Linked DNA regions of Homo sapiens. The protein of the gene in region 1 interacts with the protein of each later gene in a pairwise test. Each region holds a gene or a part of one and is shown on either strand. Other genes may lie near its edges.

Evidence for each region.
Region 2: the proteins of GRAMD4 (region 1) and RBL2 interact in a two-hybrid assay, tested with the Homo sapiens proteins (one study listed by BioGRID).

The regions. Positions count from the first base shown.
Region 1 is NC_000022.11:46,675,885-46,679,696, forward strand, and holds part of GRAMD4 (GRAM domain-containing protein 4), read left to right. Parts: intron 1-715; coding exon 716-784; intron 785-1,262; coding exon 1,263-1,367; 3' UTR 1,368-1,691; coding exon of another isoform or gene 1,692-1,793; 3' UTR 1,794-3,812. UniProt on the Homo sapiens protein: Plays a role as a mediator of E2F1-induced apoptosis in the absence of p53/TP53. Plays a role as a mediator of E2F1-induced apoptosis in the absence of p53/TP53. Inhibits TLR9 response to nucelic acids and regulates TLR9-mediated innate immune response.
Region 2 is NC_000016.10:53,465,471-53,469,282, forward strand, and holds part of RBL2 (retinoblastoma-like protein 2), read left to right. Parts: coding exon 1-132; intron 133-1,587; coding exon 1,588-1,699; intron 1,700-3,812. UniProt on the Homo sapiens protein: Key regulator of entry into cell division. Directly involved in heterochromatin formation by maintaining overall chromatin structure and, in particular, that of constitutive heterochromatin by stabilizing histone methylation.

The DNA.
Region 1 (3,812 bases):
CCTGCCTCGGATGCAGGTTTTCAGGTGGGAGCTCAGATGGTCGCGCCCGCTCTGGGCATTTTCTCAGCATTTTACCGTAGCATGGAATGAGCAGGTGGGCGTGGCCACAAGTGCCTGTGGTCCCTTGTTTTCTGGGGCAGGGAAGGCTCAGTGAGGCACTGGCAGGCACACTTGGCCCGAGTGGTCAGGGCCCCCAGCTCCCTCCCAGCTCCGAGCGTCCTGGGCATGTCCGCATTGGCACGGCGGGCACTCCCGGCCCCACGGCAGTTGTGGGTCATCTCTCCCACCCGGCTCTGGAAAAAAGCGTGCAGTCAGGTGACCAGAAGGGGTGAGTTCAGGGCTGGGGTCCTTTCCGCCTGCCTCTTGGGATTGGCGGTGCTGACAGATGGCCCTCCTGGTGCCAGGCCCTGAGAGCGAGTTCTGGGGCTGAGTGCCTACCGTCAGCCTCCTCAGGCCGGCTTGTCTCTGACCTTCCTCAGGCCAGCTGGCCGACGGTCTGGGCTGGGGTGGGACAGACCCTTTACAGGTCTGGTGTCTCGGCCACAAAGTGAGGAGGTGTCCACAGGCCCTTACCTTCTGTTGTTTGGAAGTCCCAGGTGCCCGTGGGCCCTGCTGCCTGTGTGCCCAGTGGAGGAGGATGCCCTGGGCCTGTGGAGGGCTGTGCCTCCCTGTCCCCAGGAGAGACCTGTGGTGACGGCCACGCTTTGCCTTTCAGTACAAGGTCCTGTCTGTCCTCCCAGGCTCAGGCATGGGGATTGCCGTGTCGACGCCATCCACCCAGAAAGTAGGTGCCGGGCGGGGGGCCGCCAAGGGGTTGGTGTGGGCCCAGGGGCCTGACTCTGAGCAACCCTGGGACCAGCGTGGGGCAGACAGCCAGAGTTTTAGTTTGGGCAGCAGGGTCACAAAGCCGCCCCCTCCCTCGCAGCAGCTAGAGCCTGGGGCTGCGTCCAGGTTGGGTTGGAAATCTTGCTGGGGCCATCGAGTCACCGGACAGACAGGGATGTTGGGCACAGGGGTCCCCTGACTCAGTGACTTGGGAGGAGGGAGGCACGGGGCTAAAGCCTGGCTCCCCTCTGCCTCTTGGCTCTGTTCCCCTGAAGGCTGGAGCCTGGCTCCGGGTGGTGGGGAGACACCTGTCTTTTGCACCCAGACCCACGTGACTAGCGTGCTGGCCTGGGGCTGGTGTTGGACTTCGTCTCGGTCCTGGTCCTGGCGCCAGCCTGGCTGTGCCATGCTCACTGGTGGCATTTCTTCCCTGCCAGCCGCTCGTGTTTGGTGCCATGGTGCACAGGGATGAGGCCTTCGAGACCATTCTCAGCCAGTACATCAAGATCACCTCAGCGGCAGCGTCTGGCGGGGACAGCTAGTATTGACTTGCCCAGGACGTTGCTGGAATTTTCTTTTTCTTTTTCTTTTTCTTTTTTTTTTTTTACGATTTGGTAGTGGAAACAATTGGACATCCTCATGAGCTTTTGCAATAATTCTCCTGGACCTGTGGTTCTATTGTGTTGACCTCTGCGTTTTATCGACCAAGAAGGGGCCAGGGCTCACAGGGACGGGGGTGCCCCTCTCCCACAGGGCACGTCAGGTGCCTCTGAGGGCCACCCGCAGACTGGGGGAGGGGGCAGAGGCCCTCGGGGGCCCGTGGAGAAGACACACAGGACCCCTGGCCCTGCCCTTCTCCGTTCCAGCCTGGACAGAGAAACCTCTCCAGCCACCCCAAGAGGTTCTCGCAACCTTGTGTCCCGCTCTCCAGAGGCCAGAAGCTCGTCCACCACCAAAGCCATAGCTGAAGAGTGCGGGGCCCTTCCTCCTGGGGACAGAAAGATGTCGTCAAGGAGGGACATGGGGGCCTTTCACCAACCACCGAGAAACGGGCCTGGCGGCCCTCCTTCCTCTTACATGAGACCCTCCTGTGGCATTTGCCCTTGGTGCCGGGCTGGGGCCGGGCGCAGTGACCCTGCCTGCGCTCCACACTCGCTCCACGGGAACAGAGAGGGTGAGAAGGGCCCACCCCTCGCCTGCCCTCAGTGTCTTTGGTGGCACCTTCCTTGCTGGCCTCCAGGGCGCTCAGCACCGCGTCTGTAAGGGCCTGCCTGCTGCTCTCGGCCTGACACGCCGGCCAGGAGGTCTGTAGCTGGGGACCAGTAAGGGCACAGGATGGTGCAGGTAAAAGCACATCTTTCTCACACTTTGCTCTTTGGAAGGCCCAGGAGAACATCCGCGAAGGCTGTTGGAGGTGCTCCGAGCACTGTGGCATGTCTGGCACATGGCCCCCAGGCTGCGGTTGCCTGGGTTGGTTGGGGGAGGAAGTGGGGAGGAGTGTTCCGGGACCATGGTGGCCCAGGCTGCAGCCGCCTTTGGGCCATCCGAGAGGCTCTGGCAGCCCCTGTGCTTTAGGGAGCAACCGTGAGCCGAGCCCAGAGGCCTGGGCCTGCACTGCCTGCAGCCGACATGCGACAGCGTTCCCTCCCCCGCGTGCCTAGCCGGTGCCGGTCCGGGCACAGACCCCCCCAGCCCCCGCCCTGCCCCAGGGAAGCCTGGGCTTCCCGGGAACAAGGTGGCATTTGTGGAGGGAGCGCCCGCAGGCCTGGTCTGCTGGGGCCGCCTGCGCTGGGCTGAAGGGAGGGAAAGGCGGCTTGGGCCTCCTGGAAGGAGGTGGCCACCCCGCGGGCCTGCGTGTCTGCTGGGGCGGATCCCGCAGCTCCCTCAGCTTGTCCTGAGTCCCTTGGGTGTCGTTGAGATTGTTGTTTTTTGAAGAAACAGAAGATTCTATTTTTTACAGCGAGCAAGCTGGTTTTCTTATTTTTGTATCCTTTTTCAGATGTAATTTTTATCTTTGCTCCGATCCTCATTTGCTGGTGTGGGTGAGGGATCCGGCGGCATGGGCTGGTTTCACCCCCTTCACGAGGGGCCGCAGAGTCACACGCTGGTGCCGGGGGTGCTTTGGGGGGAGCTGCGCCGATCACCAGATTAAGCACATGTCCTATCCCAGGCGGTGGAGCGGAGCCCCCGTGGCTCTGGACTGCGCGGACGTTGGCGTCAGGATGACCACACGGCGGCCTTTCCCGAATGGGGACAGAACCCGCTCTGAGCCGTGGGTCTGGCTCCTGTAGGGGACTGGCTCTCTTGGTGCACCAGGGGAGGGGGACATATCCCAGTGAACCCCACCTTGGCGCCTGAGGCAACACAGGGTGGGCACTGACCCACCCCCAGGGGCGGCTGCAGAGGCAGTGCCCGCAGACAATGGCCACACCTCTCTCCCCAGGGCCCGGCAGTGCCCAAGGATGGGTCCGGGGCCTCGGGGCCAATGAGCGCCTCTTCCTAGGTGCTGGGATTCAGTCCCCAAACACAGCGGGAGGGGTCCCTGGGGCAGATGGGGCTTTACCAGCGTCGGGTGGTTTAGTTCGAGTCCCTTTTGTGGAGAAAGGGAGATGAAAACTGACCACGTGCCAGGTGTGGCCGAAGCCCCCAGGGAGGGCCACATTCGGGGAGCGGGGGGTCGGGGGAGGGCCACCGACTGGCTCTGCTGCCAGCACAGGCCCCTCCCTGGAAGTCCTCGGGAGCGGAGCGCGGATCGGCACGGGCTCTGGGCTCCCCGTGGAGAGAAGCTGTAGTTTTTACCAAATTGTGTACATCTGGGCAGATGTTTAATTTCTGTGACTAATCACTGAACTAGACGAATGTTAAATTTTTTATGTCTGAAGCCTGAGTCTATTTTGGATCTGTAAATAATCATTGCCAGTGTGACTTTTGTTCAACAAAAGGATTGTACTGTATTAAGAACCGATGAAAAAAATTCTCCTGTAACA
Region 2 (3,812 bases), on another chromosome or scaffold:
CTTTGTAGAGAGGTGGTAAAACACCTTAATCAGATTGAAGAACAGATCTTAGATCATTTGGCATGGAAACCAGAGTCTCCACTCTGGGAAAAAATTAGAGACAATGAAAACAGAGTTCCTACATGTGAAGAGGTTTGTGAAAATAACATCTTTTTATGAGAAAAATACATCAATATCTAATCTATTAATAATCCTTTTGGGGATGGGAGGGTGGCAATTAGGTTTAATATGTTATAATTACACCTTGTTATGAGAAAAATCTTGGACTGTAACGTCCCTCTCTACCCACAAATTGGGAAGGTGCCAAGAGACCAAAGAATGACTCAGACAAGTCCAGCTTGGTAAGTAGATAACGTTTATTAAGACTTACATATGGAGGAGGCAGAGGTGGTGGGGAAAAATAAAAGACTTATATACAGGGTACTCCTAGGTAGCAGCAGGACAGCTCTAGAGATCCTCGCCACCTCCCATCGCTAAGCTGCTTTTAAGCTAATTTTCTGGCTCTTTGCCTACTATGTGTGTGCACGATGGGACTGTTTTCCTTGGTAGTTTCTCAGATCTTCTCTGGGATGTTGGGGTTCTCAGGGACACCTGTTCCTTGGCTGGGCACCATGGCCTTGGCTCACTGCCTAGCCTTCAGGGTTTAGGCAGCAGACATACACCCTTAAGTAAGGTAGGTGACCTGTCACATTTCACCCCATGTCAAAGAGGAAACGAGTCAGATAATTTGTGGTTGTCCTAAGATTTTGGTGACAGAGTAAAAATTCAGTGTTCTTTCTTGATTTCCTTACCAAGTTTCTTTCCCATAGAGCAGTGGTCCAACCTTTTTGGCACCAAGGACCAGTTTCATGGAAGACAATTTTTCCATGGACAGGGTTGGGGGTTGGAGAGATTTTGGGATGATTCAACTGCCTTACATTTATTGCACACTTTATTTCTATTATTATTACGTGGTAATATATAATGAAATAATTATACAACTCACCAAAATGTAGAGTCAGTGGGAGCCCTGAGCTTGTTTTCCTGCAACTAGATGGTCCCATCTGGGGGCGGTGGGAGACAGTGACAGATCAGCAGGCATTAGATTCTCATAAGGAGCATGCAACCTAGATCCCTTATGTGTGCAGTTCACAATAGGGTTCACACTCCTGTGAGAATCTAATGCCACCACTAATCTGACAGGAGGCCAGCACAGGCGGCAATGTGAGCGATGGGGAGCAGCTTTAAATACAGATGAAGCTTTGCTCGCATGCTCACTTGCCTGCTGCTCACCTCCTGCTATGTTGCCCAGTTCCTAACAGGGTCCATGGCCCAGGGGTTGGGGACTCCTGCTTTAGAGTGGTTGATATTCAAACTCTCCAAACCAGTAATGAAGTTTGACTCATATTTAGTATCCAATTACAAGGTTTTGAATTTTTTGACTGCCAAAAGTTTTTTTTTTAACTTTATTATTAAAATGGGAAAGACAGCTGATTTTATTTAGATGGAATAATTGTTAAGATACTTTTTCTGCCTTAGATTACTATTGTATTTGTAATTAAAGTGCTTTTTTGGATACTGGCATTCTGTGTAACCAATTCTTCATAGGTCATGCCACCTCAGAACCTGGAAAGGGCAGATGAAATTTGCATTGCTGGCTCCCCTTTGACTCCCAGAAGGGTGACTGAAGTTCGTGCTGATACTGGAGGACTTGGAAGGAGTAAGTTTAAAATACTAGGAGAATATTTTGGGGCTTACTATCTGGAAATTTAAATTTCATCTAACCCTACAAGTGAAGTTAATAGGGTATACATAGAAGAAAATATTCTATGCATTTTTGTACCACATGGATCACTTAAAAGAAGGGCCTTTAAAGACTAAGAACACAGGAAAATGCATGATATAACAGGTATCTTTTAAAAAGGATAGACTGCTTTATTTATTTATTTATTTATTGAGACAGAGTCTTGCTCTGTCACTCAAGCTGGAGTGCAGTGGCCCAATCTCAGCTCACTGCAACCTCTGCCTGCCGGGTTCAAGCGATTCTCATGCCTCAGCCTCCTGAGTAGCTGGGACTACAGGCATGCGCCACCACGCCTAGCTAATTTTTGTATTTTTAGTAGAGAAGGGGTTTTGCCATATTGGCCAGGCTGGCCTTGAACTCCTGACCTCAAGTGATCCGCCTACCTCGTTCTCCCAAAGTGCTGGAATTACAGGCATGAGGCACCGTGCCCGGCTGACTGCTGTATATTTAATATGATCCCTATTTTTAAAGTGTATGTTTATTTATGAGCATACAAAATAGTGGAAATGGAAAAACCAAACTGTTAAGATCATTGTTGGGTGATAGAATTCCTGGTGATTTCTGTAAAATTTTTAAGGCAAATACATATTACTTTTAAAATCAGAAATAGAAAAGCCTTCTTAAAGATAGAGCTGCATGATCCAGTTAGGTATAGACAAGCCAGTGAGTTAAGACAACTGAGTATGTTCCACTTTGTTGAGCTGTGCTACCCTAGTTAATGTGACATTAGTGCTGGCCCAAGAAATACAGAAAAGGGCAGTTTTGCTATCTATCTGGTTTGTATTTTTTAGGCAGCTGCTTAGAAGATCTGCAAGGTGAAAGGTTTTAGTTTACATATGTGAGATAGAACTACTTTTTTAAAGAGCAATTCAGTAAATCCAGAGAGTTCTAAATCCTTGGATCCAATTAAAAGAATATTCTTATTTCTAGATCAGTTTTATAATGTAATTGATAAGAACTGGCTATAGAAGGAATACCAGTTTTAAAGTCAGGATTCACTCTAGGCTGGGCATGGTGGCTCATGCCTGTAATCCCAGCACTGTGGGAGACCTAGTGGGGAGGATCACTTGAGCCCCGGAGTTCAAGACCATCCTGGGCAACATAGCAAGATACCATCTCTACCCCCAACCCCCCCAAAAAAATCACTCTAAGTGTATACTTAATACACATGGATGATCCTTATGAAAAGTCCTCATTTTTGAAAGATCTGACAGCTGGTCTTTCTTAGTCTATTTTTGTAGAATTTTCCGTTCCCTAATCTACAGATTAGGAAGACTTGACTTTAAACTTCATTTTCTTTGTACTTACCACTTCTCAGTTTTCCTGAGATCTCTTGATATTTTATAAGAAAAAATGATCATAATCTATTCTTTCTGATTCTGCAGCTTTGTACCAAATACAAATCTAGTAAGTTTATTTACTTTTGTATCATCTGGAAATAGAAATGTTAAGCCACAGTTTGTTAGGATTTACTCCTATCAGTACTTCTTACAAACTTTCTATGTATATTTTAAATTTTAAAAACACTCTGATGCACAGCTCTTAGAAGTGGACACAGAAGAAGGAAGAAATGCTTCTCAAAAATTCAGACATTGGTGTGAATACTTAAAAATAGACTAAGCCATAATGGGTTGTGTACCACTGAATCATACACTTAAAAATGGTTGAATGGTAAATTTTATGTTATATATATAACCACAATTTTAAAAAACTAGCCTGTAATACCAGCATTTTGGGAGGCCAAGGCGGGTGGATCACCTGAGGTCAGGAGTTCGAGACCAGCCTGGCCAACATGGTGAGACCTCATCTCTACTAAAAATACAAAAATTAGCCATGCCTTGTGGCATATGCCTCTAATCCCAGTTACTTGGGAGGCTGAGGCACAAGAATCACTTAAACCCAGGAGGCAGAGGTTGTAGTGAGCCGAGATCAGGCTACTGCACTCCAGCCTGGGTGATAGAGTAAGACTCTGTCTCAAAAAATAAAAAAAATAGTAACAATTTGCCCCAAACCATTGAATTGTATAATT